Regions from separate parts of the Homo sapiens genome. Here all the other regions are reported to be linked to region 1. The links are microRNA targets in miRTarBase. Many come from high-throughput screens and were not tested one by one. Region 1 holds a microRNA gene; each other region holds the end of a gene's coding sequence.

What was found. Region 1 holds the annotated microRNA hsa-miR-362-5p (AAUCCUUGGAACCUAGGUGUGAGU, at 1,420-1,443, opposite strand). A microRNA usually pairs through its seed, bases 2 to 8, with sites in the 3' UTR of a target mRNA and lowers its output. Matches are read on the target gene's strand: a 7mer-m8 pairs with bases 2 to 8, a 7mer-A1 pairs with bases 2 to 7 and ends in A, and an 8mer does both.
Region 2: miRTarBase lists BORCS5 as a target of hsa-miR-362-5p. Seed matches in the 3' UTR shown: 7mer-m8 at 182-188.
Region 3: the mRNA of EWSR1 is a reported target of hsa-miR-362-5p. The part of its 3' UTR that is shown has no 7-base or 8-base seed match.

What each region holds. Positions count from the first base shown.
Region 1 is chrX:50,007,063-50,010,410 of GRCh38, reverse strand. MIR362 (microRNA 362) reads right to left here and starts at 1,447; the gene lies at 1,383-1,447. All of the region lies in intron 3 of CLCN5 (chloride voltage-gated channel 5), which reads right to left. MIR500A (microRNA 500a) reads right to left here and starts at 1,980; the gene lies at 1,897-1,980. It overlaps MIR501 (microRNA 501), which reads right to left and starts at 689; the gene lies at 606-689.
Region 2 is chr12:12,465,185-12,468,184 of GRCh38, reverse strand. It overlaps BORCS5 (BLOC-1 related complex subunit 5), which reads right to left. Exons shown (of 4, transcript NM_058169.6): 4 at 1-2,639. The coding sequence ends at 2,409. Among named protein-coding and RNA genes, the nearest start is that of DUSP16, 96 kb to the left of the region's middle.
Region 3 is chr22:29,299,569-29,302,916 of GRCh38, reverse strand. It overlaps EWSR1 (EWS RNA binding protein 1), which reads right to left. Exons shown (of 17, transcript NM_005243.4): 16 at 3,066-3,318; 17 at 2,396-2,795. The coding sequence ends at 2,756. Among named protein-coding and RNA genes, the nearest start is that of GAS2L1, 5.4 kb to the left of the region's middle.

The sequences.
Region 1 (3,348 bases):
AAATTAGCCAGGCATGGTGGCACAAGCCTGTGGTCCCAGCTATTTGAGAGGCTGAGGTGGGAGGATCGCTTGAGCCCAGGTGGTTGAGGCTGCAGTGAACTGTGATGGTGCCAGTGCACTCCAGCCTGAGCAACAGAGCAATACTCCATCAAAAAAGAAAGAAAAGAAAAGAGAGAAGAAAAGAAAGGAAAGGAAAGGAAGGAAAGAAAGAAAAGAAAGAGAAAGAAAAAGAAAAGAAGGAAGGAAGGAAAGAAGGAAAAAACAAGAAACAAGTATCAATGTGACAGCAGGAATGAGAAGACTCACACTTATGGGTGGGTTAAGGTGGGAAGAGGGTAGATAAGAAGTTCCTATGTGGCCCACTCACCCTCAGTATATGCAGGGGCAATGAGTGGTGACAAAGTCCATTCTCCTCTCAGGCTATAATATCCAGGAAGGCAGGGGCGAAGTCTGCCTTGTTCATTTCTCTGTGTCCAATGCCCATCATGGTGCCCAATACATATTATTTGTGGAAGGAAAGAATGAATGAGGGTCAGAGAGCAGGCAGGCAAGCAGCAAGCAGCTGAGAGGTGACATACAGATCTTCTGTTCTCCACGCAGAGGGGGCTCACCCTCTCAGAATCCTTGCCCGGGTGCATTGCATTCAGAAAGCACTCTCACCCAGGGACAAAGGATTAGAGAGGAAGAGCAGAGCAGAAGACTCAGGCACCTGCACCCTGCATGTATATCTCCATATATATTTGACTTTCATGGTCCCATTCCTGCAAAGTATCTCTGTGTGCATTTGCTAAGACAGATGCCTCTCCTCAGGGATAGCATATGTATTCATCCCCCTGCACAAGGCCACATGGACATGCCCTCTCAGACAAAACCTCAGACTAGAATGAAAGATATGAGTGGCATCTTTTTCAGATCACACTTGAGGGTCTGCAGGTGCTGGATGTATTTGGGGCCTAGCAAGGAGGTTGGGACAAACTGTATGTGGGCACACATGTACATGCACATGTTGGAAGATGGTACAGAAAATTGGGATACTTCATTCTCTTCTGTTTCTCTGGTAAACTATAAGCTCACTGAGAGCAAAGACTGGCTGTGCAAGTCTCATCACCCAATGTGTGTTTCCCCATTACAGTATCTGACACATAGTAAGCTGGGAGTAAACAGAAAGCTCATGCTCTCAAAGAGGTGTAAGCTTGTCCAGGGCAATGATGAAGTTCATTCTCCCACAGGTGCCCTCTACAGAGCCCAGGGACCTTAGCTGTCTTATTTACCGTTGTATCTCCACCACCCAGTGCAGGATCTGGCACCGCATAGCAAACACAAACATGTGAAAGAAGGGGACAGGTTGTTGGTCCTTCTACATGTAGACAAGGCTCAGCCTCTTTGAATCCTTGAATAGGTGTGTTGCACTGAAATAGCACTCACACCTAGGTTCCAAGGATTCAAGAGGGGGAGCAGACAAGAAGGCTCTGACACCTGCCCTTTTTGTGTGTTTGTATGTGTGCATGTGTAGCTATAACCAAGTCTCACTCTCATGTATATACAGTGTCATTTACTAGGGACTTTACAGAAAGGCAGAGAATCTTTTCTCCTGCAGAGTTCCATGTGAGATCAGAGAAGATTCATGCTTTTGTGTATGTTTGTGGGTGACAGTGGTAATGAGAAGTCCACTCTGTGGCCCACCCACTCTCAGGGCATGTAGGTGTAATGGATGATGAGGAATTCCATTCTTCTTCCTCAACTGTAGCTCCATGAGGGTAGGGACCAAGCATGTCTTGTTAGCAACTGTATGCTCATTACTCAACTTAGTATCATATACAGAAAAGGTGGTCAATAAATACTTGTGGAATGGATGATAGGAGGACAGAAAGACGCTCTGTCCTACACGAAGATGAAGCTCTCGCTCTCAGAATCCTTGCCCAGGTGCATTGCATTCAGACAGCACTCTCACCCAGGTAGCAAGGATTAGAGAGGGGGAGCAGAACACAAAGCCCTGTGAATGTTCAGTGAGAGGGCTCATTCTTCTTCACACAAGGTACTTACTTGTCATGATATAGAAGTAAAGAGAACAGTTCTTGAGCTTTGCATTAAAGATGTCTAGTTAAACACACATTTTGTCTGTTCTCTCAGATAGTAACAACAAAAAAGTATAAACCTATAAAGAGACTGGGAGGAGAGAGGAGTGTGAAAGGGAGGAAAGAGAGAATGAATATAACGCCAAAGCTCATGATCCCGCAAATGCTTTGTGTGACTATGCAACAAGAAGGCAGTACAGTTTAGCACAGTTGTTCTCTAACATGCACCAGAATCATCTGAAGACCTGGGTAATATACAGGTTACAGAGGTTTCTGACTTGGTGAGTCTGGGGTGAGACCCAAGAATTTGCATTTCTAACAAGTTCTCAGGTGATACTGATGCTACTGGTCCAGGGACTACACTGGGAGAATCACTAATGTAGTGGAAAAACCAGGCACTTTGGTATCTACGAACCTTGGTTCAAATGCACGCTCTACCACATATTAGCCTAGAGAATCGACCTGATTTTCCCAAGGTCAAGTTAAACACTTTTGAAGAATGAGGACAATTTAAAGCCTACCTCTTAAATGGTGTCAAGAAAATGAAATAAAGTATAGTACCTGGCACACAGCCGTCAATATTTTTACCTCTTACTCTCTATTTTTATGTATATATGTGTTTGAATGAATGTGCATTTTTAAGGGGGATGGTGAAACTCCTGCATGCAAGGGACAGGTGAGAGAGAAGAGGTCCGAGTATCTGTGAGTGTGAGTGCCTGCACAAGGGGATACACAGATTCATCCTCTTAAATTCCTCACGTGTGAGTTGATGAGGTTCTCCTTCAATCTCCCTAGGTCAACAAAGTTCACGCCCCTTCACATAAGGGATATGAAGGAAAACATCAGAAGTTCCACTCTCTCTGTGTGTGTGTGTGTGTGTGTGTGTGTGTGTGTGACAGAGAGAGAGAGAGAGAGAGAGAGAGAGAGAGAGAGAGAGAAAGAGAGAGAGAGAGAGACAGAAAATGAGTAAAGATGGGGGCATCTGGCCCTGTGAGTATAATCAAAAAGGCTCCTGTCTCTCCTGTCCCTGTATGCTCACATGTCTGCATATGCTGGGCACCCAGCCACATGTGGGCCTCCCTTGCATGCTCATTCTCCTGTATGCCTTGCTTGTGCACATGTGCATATACGAGTATTTGTGTATCTGTGATTGTGAGAGAGAACATTAACAAGGAAGTGCATCTTCATTCAACAGCTACCTAAGGGAAGAATGCCGAGACAGCTCACTGCCCTTTCTGGGAGGGCAAAGAGAGTAGAGTTAGGGCAGGAAGGA
Region 2 (3,000 bases), not on the chromosome of region 1:
AGCAATTAGAGGGGCTGGTGAAAGTCTCGGTTCGGCTGTTTCTTCTTCACCAGACCACAGGCCAGGCGGTTGGAAAGGATGGTGAGGGAGAGCAAGTACGACTGAGACCTGCAAGCCACAAGCTGGGACCTGCACCTGTCTCTCATCAGAGCCCGTGCTGGTCTCTCATCCCCAAACCTTCATCCTTGTGGCTGCAGACCAAGAAGCTGGTTCTCATACCCGGCCCAGGGTCTGGAAAAGCCAAAGGCAGAGTTCTGCGGGAGTGGGAGGAGCCGTGGGCCCAGCGGCTGCCCACACCACAAGTGCAGGAGATCCATGGTAACGTGCACGTGATGGAACAGGGCCTGACCTACATCCACTTCCAGTGAATACACATGGCTGTTGCTCTACTTCCACTTCCAAACCTCATGCAAATCTCTCTCGTGGCCAACCCTCACCAGAGAAACAAACAAGGAAGGGAATTCTGGGAACACAGTTCAGTTTAGCCAAGTTCACGACACTGCAGAAACCACAACATGCCATCAAAATATTAAACTAACTAGAATTCTTTCCGGGAGTATTGAATTTGCCTATTGTTCTTCTGCCATACTTCTCCGCTTCCACCCAGTAATAAGTAGCCTATCACCTACTCAGGACCCCAGTCTAAGTGAACCCCATGTTTTGTCTAACTTCTACTTTAGAAGTAGACACAGTTGGCTGGAGAGCTGGCTGACTGCGTGGTTTGTTTGTGCTGCACTAGGTCTGCCATCCTGCCCTGTGCCAGCCACTAACAGCTGCAGCAGTGGAAAGGCTCGGCCCTCGCAGGCTTGAACTGCCACCCACTCTGTGCTTTCATGTGTCACCTGTATTAAGTGCAGTGAGGATAATGGCACCTAAGCTATTTTTGTAGCTCTGTAAACAGCCCTTCATTCCTCGAAGCTACAAACATATCCCTGTGTTCAGAACCAGGTTCTGTATACTCCAGAAGAAAGACAATGATGGTGATGTCTTAAATATACCACTTTTTGTCAATCTAGGTGAAAGAAATATGAATATTCATTGTATTATTCTTTTGAATTTGAAAATGTAAAATTAATTAATTTTTTTTAATTAGCTGGATTTGGTGGCACACACCTGTAATCCCAGCTACTCAGGAGTCTGAGGCGTGAGGATCCCCGGAGCCCGGGAGTTTGAGGAGTCAGTGTGCTATGATTGCGCCACTGCACTCCAGCCTGAGCAACAGCACAAGACCCTGTCTCAAACCAAGATTAGAATCAGATCAAGTTTAGCCAAGATACATTAAATTAAGCGCATCAATTTTAATCTTGTGAATCTACTGAAGGCTCTTTCTGGTATCTGAAAACACACCTCCCGACGCTTGCAGGAACTTAGGGAACAGGGTACAGGCCTGCATGCCGTCCTGGCCCCAGCGACTCCCTTCAGCTCTGACTTTTAGTCTCAAGGTGTCTGCCTAGGTCTGCTCCTCACATTCCACTCTTTGCTTCTCCAGTCCTTGCTTCCATTAGAACACCTATGATGTGTAAAGTACGACACTAAGCACTTTTGTTGTTACTCAAATAACTTCCTTTCCTAAACTCCCAGAGAAATTCAGCAGCTTTTTGAGCTTTTTTCTTTTCAGAAATGAAGGCCTGAGGCTATACGGCCATATTTGTATCCCTGGCACAATATTGGACACATCAAATGGGTTCAAGAAATGTCTGTGGAATGAGACATCTCTGCAGTCAAAGAAAGCTAAACTATGTCTGCATCAAGGAAACCGGTTATCAGTGGAGATGAATCTGATGAGGGTGTGGAAAGGAAGGCTTCAGCTTCTGATGACGACTAAGGGACACCTAACCTGACAGTCAACAAAATGCCAGTGTTCCACCTGGGCAGGAAGACGCGCCCCAGATAAGGGCTTGGTGTGACGGAAACAGTCAGGGTAGAAACAGGAACAATACAGAGACCTAGATTCAATTAGTTTTTCAAGTTGACCACACATAAACCAGACAGCCTACTGAAAAGTTCATGAGGGCGTTGAGAACACAGAGCTTCGTAAAATATTTTCCCCTTGTCTCCATATTTTTATTCCGGTACCTGGACTGGACTATATACTCTCAATTAAAAAAAAAAAAAAACTAAATAAAAATAATTCTCAATGCAGAGTTCTTCAAAGAATTCCTAATAATTCACACGTTCCAGCTTCAGTTATCACCGAGAACTGGTTAGGTTCCTTCCACACCGGGAAACTGCATCAAGGAAAAGAGCTGGGCAAAGTCAGATTTTCATGCCAGCCGGACTCCTTCGCACCCACTTTCAGGGAGCCTCCCGCCAGCCTCCAGACCTGGTCAGATGATATGACCTTAGCTCCACACGTCCTCAGGGTGTCGGTGTCTGGGGCTCCCAGCCCCAGGCAGGCCGGGCAGCAGCTACAGCCTGAGCTCGCGGTCGGGCTTCATGCTGAAGGGCTCCAGCCGCTCGCCCTCGGGCAGCATGCTGTTGAGCCTGTCCAGCAGGGGCACAGTCTGGTCGATGCCCATCTGTATGCGGCGGAGGATGGCGGACATCTCGTTCACTTTCTGGATCTGCTCGGCATACTTGGCGTATCTTTTCTGGCGCTCCTGCATGAAGCTGAACAGAGTTTCTACAGACAGATCCATCTGTGGATGGGAAAGAGAAGTACATTATACCTTGTTTAATCAAGTCCTCTCCGCAGGGCCGGGTGTCCAGCCTGTGAGGGACACAGTCCCGCAGATCCAGTGGAAGCTGACAAGTTTTACAGGAAGCACCCAGGGCTAAAAAGCCCTTCAGGGACACAGCTTTATCAACTGTTGTGCCAGAACCACCTTTAGAAGAGAACTGAGAGGGGACTGTCCCTGGCTCTATGTTCTGGGAATGTGCGTTATTTGTACCTTGTTGAGATCCTGAGATTTCTATCTCCCTATATGAGGGGAATTCTGGATGTGGAAATCAGTCAGGCCAAGGCTGAATCTGGCTCTGTCACGTGTATGAGCTGCTAAT
Region 3 (3,348 bases), not on the chromosome of region 1:
GGAGGGGACAGCACGAGGGCCAGCTGTTGTCCCTGTCACAGACTGCACAGTCCTCAGCCCCACAGCTGCTGGTACTGCTGTTGCTGCAGCCCTGTGCTCTTCCCCGTCGAGCAGGGGAGCCACTCCCTGTGGGCATAGATCAGTCTCCCCATGGACCCCGCCACCTTTGCCCAGGCCTGTGCCATGTGGCCTCGTGGGACCTCAAGTTTGTGTTGGCAACTTTTAGTCTAGGTGCTTTTGGGGAGTTTGACCAGGGTGTGGGTAGAGACTAGGCTTTTTCTCCACCTGCTCTGCTCTCTGCCCTGCCCACCTCCTTCATGCCCTGGCACCAGCCAGCTTCCTGCCGCCCTTTGAGACAGGCTTGGCATCCATGCTGCCTGAGGGAATCTGTGCCCAGAGCATCCAGAAGTTTCTTTGGGCTGAGAAAAATAGACCTGCCTGCTGTAAACATCTCTACCAGGGCTATTTAGTGCCAGTGACAAACCCCTCTCGGGCAGGGACATAAGGCTACTCCTGGGGAGCCTATGCAATGCCAGAGTCTGACAGATGCTTGTGCAGTAGCAGCTTCCAGAGCAGGCTGCTTGTCTTCCCTTAGTGCTGGCAGCATGCGGGTCATGTCAGAGCACCCATCCTTTTCAGAAGCAGGTGCCTGTATACAGTGGGTTGGTGGGAGGGTGAGCGTGCGGGGCCTGGAGGGCGACCACCCTTAGCTCAATTCAGGCCTCTCAATGGCAAGTCCTCCCTTGACCTCTCTCTTCCCATCTCAGCTGACGTGTGGCTGTCCTATGTTACCTGCCTTGAAGGTTATTAGGAATTAAACGCACAGAGGTACTTAGCGCAGTGCCTGGCACGACGCAGGGACCCAGTGATGCCCTAGTCGAGTTTGGGCCTCCTAGGTTATGTGTGCATCTTGGCTCTGACACACCAAGGCTGCGGTGAGAGCGTCCTCGGCCCCTTGAGGAACAGTGCTGGACTGGCGTGCAAGGTAGAGCAGGGCAGCTGGGGTCCCAGAGGTCTTTTGGGGCATGGCAAGCGTGCTTGGAGCCACCAAATGGTTTTGAGACTGGAGATGACCTCCCGTGTCAAGTTGGTTTGGGCCAAGTGTGGTGGCTTACGCCTGTAATCCTAGCACTTTGAGAGGTCAAGGTGGGATGATCACTTGAGCCCAAGTTGAGACCAGCCTGGGCAACAGTGAGACCTGGTCTCTACAAAAACATCAAAAAAATTAGCTGGGTGCTACACCTGTAGTCCCAGCTACTCAGCTCAGGAGGTGAAGCTGTGATTGCACCACTGTACTCCAGTCTTGGTGAGAGCAAGACCATCTCAAACAACAAAAAACCCCACAAACCTTGGTCTGGCTTCTGAGGAAGGGCTGGAGATACTGAGGGGAGAAGCAGGGAACCCAGTGAGGGGGCGTTATGGAGGTGGGGGCTGTGGGTGGATTTGCACCGTCCTGGATTTGCAAGAGAGCTAGGTTGGGGGCTGGGGTTTGAGAATGGGTCATGGATGACTCCAAGGTTTGGGGCAGGTGTGTGTTTACTGAACTGGGGTGTAGGCAGGACGGGACAAGAGCAAGCCCTGCTCTACACCCATCATGCACCCAAGCCGAGTTGGCCCTAGGGAGAAAGGGCTAAAGCCACAGTATGGAAAGGACAGCCAGGCAGTGTGGCGGCTCAGGGGAGCGCAATGCTAGCTTTGGGGCCTTCCTGCATTTAGGGATAGGAGAAAAAGGAAGCAATGAAGGAGATGGGAGAACAGAGAAGGAAAGACCATTGATTGGGCAACATTAGAGGTGGTTGGTGACTGAGAGCTGCTTGTTTTAGTGCAGGTGAAGAATGAAGTGGGTTCCAGAGAGGGAGGGGTGGACAAAGCTCTTTCCATGTGCTTCCTGTAGAAAGGGCCAGGAAGATGGTTTGATGGAGGGAAGGGGATGATGGCTGGTTAAGGGAGGGTTTTCCAAACGCAGGGAGTCAAACACATATTAGAACAGGAAATGACCAGGGAAAGAAACAGCAGAGGTGCACACAATGCATGCCCAGAAGTGCTGGGGATGAGAGGACCCGACCCAGTCCGCCTGAGAGGGATCGTCCCTCACCTGAGGGAGCAGCCCCTTAGATGCTCCTAGTGCCTGATCCGTGATCCCATGGAAGGCAAAGTTATTTCCAGTTCTTCCTGTGCCTCCCTTACCTGGATCTCCCCTTGAACCTTTGGACACTAGTGGGTCTCAGAGGCTGCATCAGGGCCAGAGTCTGTTTCCATGTCACAACCGCTTATTTCCCCTCACACAAACCCTGAACCAACCGTTTACCTGGAAGGCACCCCTCTCCTGGGTGGGGTGGGAGCATGCTCCCAGCAGACACACAGTGACTGTGGAACAGAGGCCGAGAAGGATGACTCTTTATAAACATTTGGAATTTTATTTAAAAAAAAAAAAAAAACATCACAACCATGAACATTGTTACAGTTAAGAGGCCCTCTTGGTTCTCCACAATGATACTGAGCATGCTCACAAGGGGTTCCCATTGTTAAAGTCTTAAACAACCATTTTTAAAAGAAGGAAGAAAAAAAAACTCCGCACACTACCATTTAACTTGTTTTAATGTTTCTTCACAAATGGTGAAAAATACTAAAGTACAGACAAGGAATAATCATAATGTTGTGGCCAACATTATAAATATGGAATTATAAATTTAAAACATTTTCTGGTTTAAAAAATAAATCTGGTAGTCAATGCAGCTCTGCGGGGTCTCTGCATCTAGTAGGGCCGATCTCTGCGCTCCTGACGGTGCTCGCCTCTGCAAGGTAAAGAGGGCCCTTCGGTTAGAATGGGAAGGGGTGAGGAAGCCCTTCCAGAGCCCCCAGGTGCCCCTTCCTGGCTCCTCCCAATCGGTTAGAATGGGAAGGGGTGAGGAAGCCCTTCCAGAGCCCCCAGGTGCCCCTTCCTGGCTCCTCCCAACCACTATCACAAGCTTCCTAGAGACATGAGGACTTGCGCCAACCAAGCTGGGAAGGGCTGTCCTCTTACTGTGCCTGGCGGCCCACAGCTGCTTTTCACCAGCACTTACTTATCCATTTTTCCAGGTCCTCCACGTCCTCCTCTTCTTCCTCCCATCTGTTCCATCAAAGGTCCAGGGGGCCCCCCAGGGCCACCTCGTCTTCCTCCACCAAAGCCACCTCGGTCCATGCCCCGGCCACCACGGAAGCCACCTCTGTCTCCACCACGGCCACCTCTGAACATTCCACCGGGACCACCACGATCCATGAGGCCACCTCTTCCTCCCCGCATGCCACCAGGGCCACCTCTGCCACGATCACCACCTAAGGTGAGAATAGCAGGGCGAAAGCAGT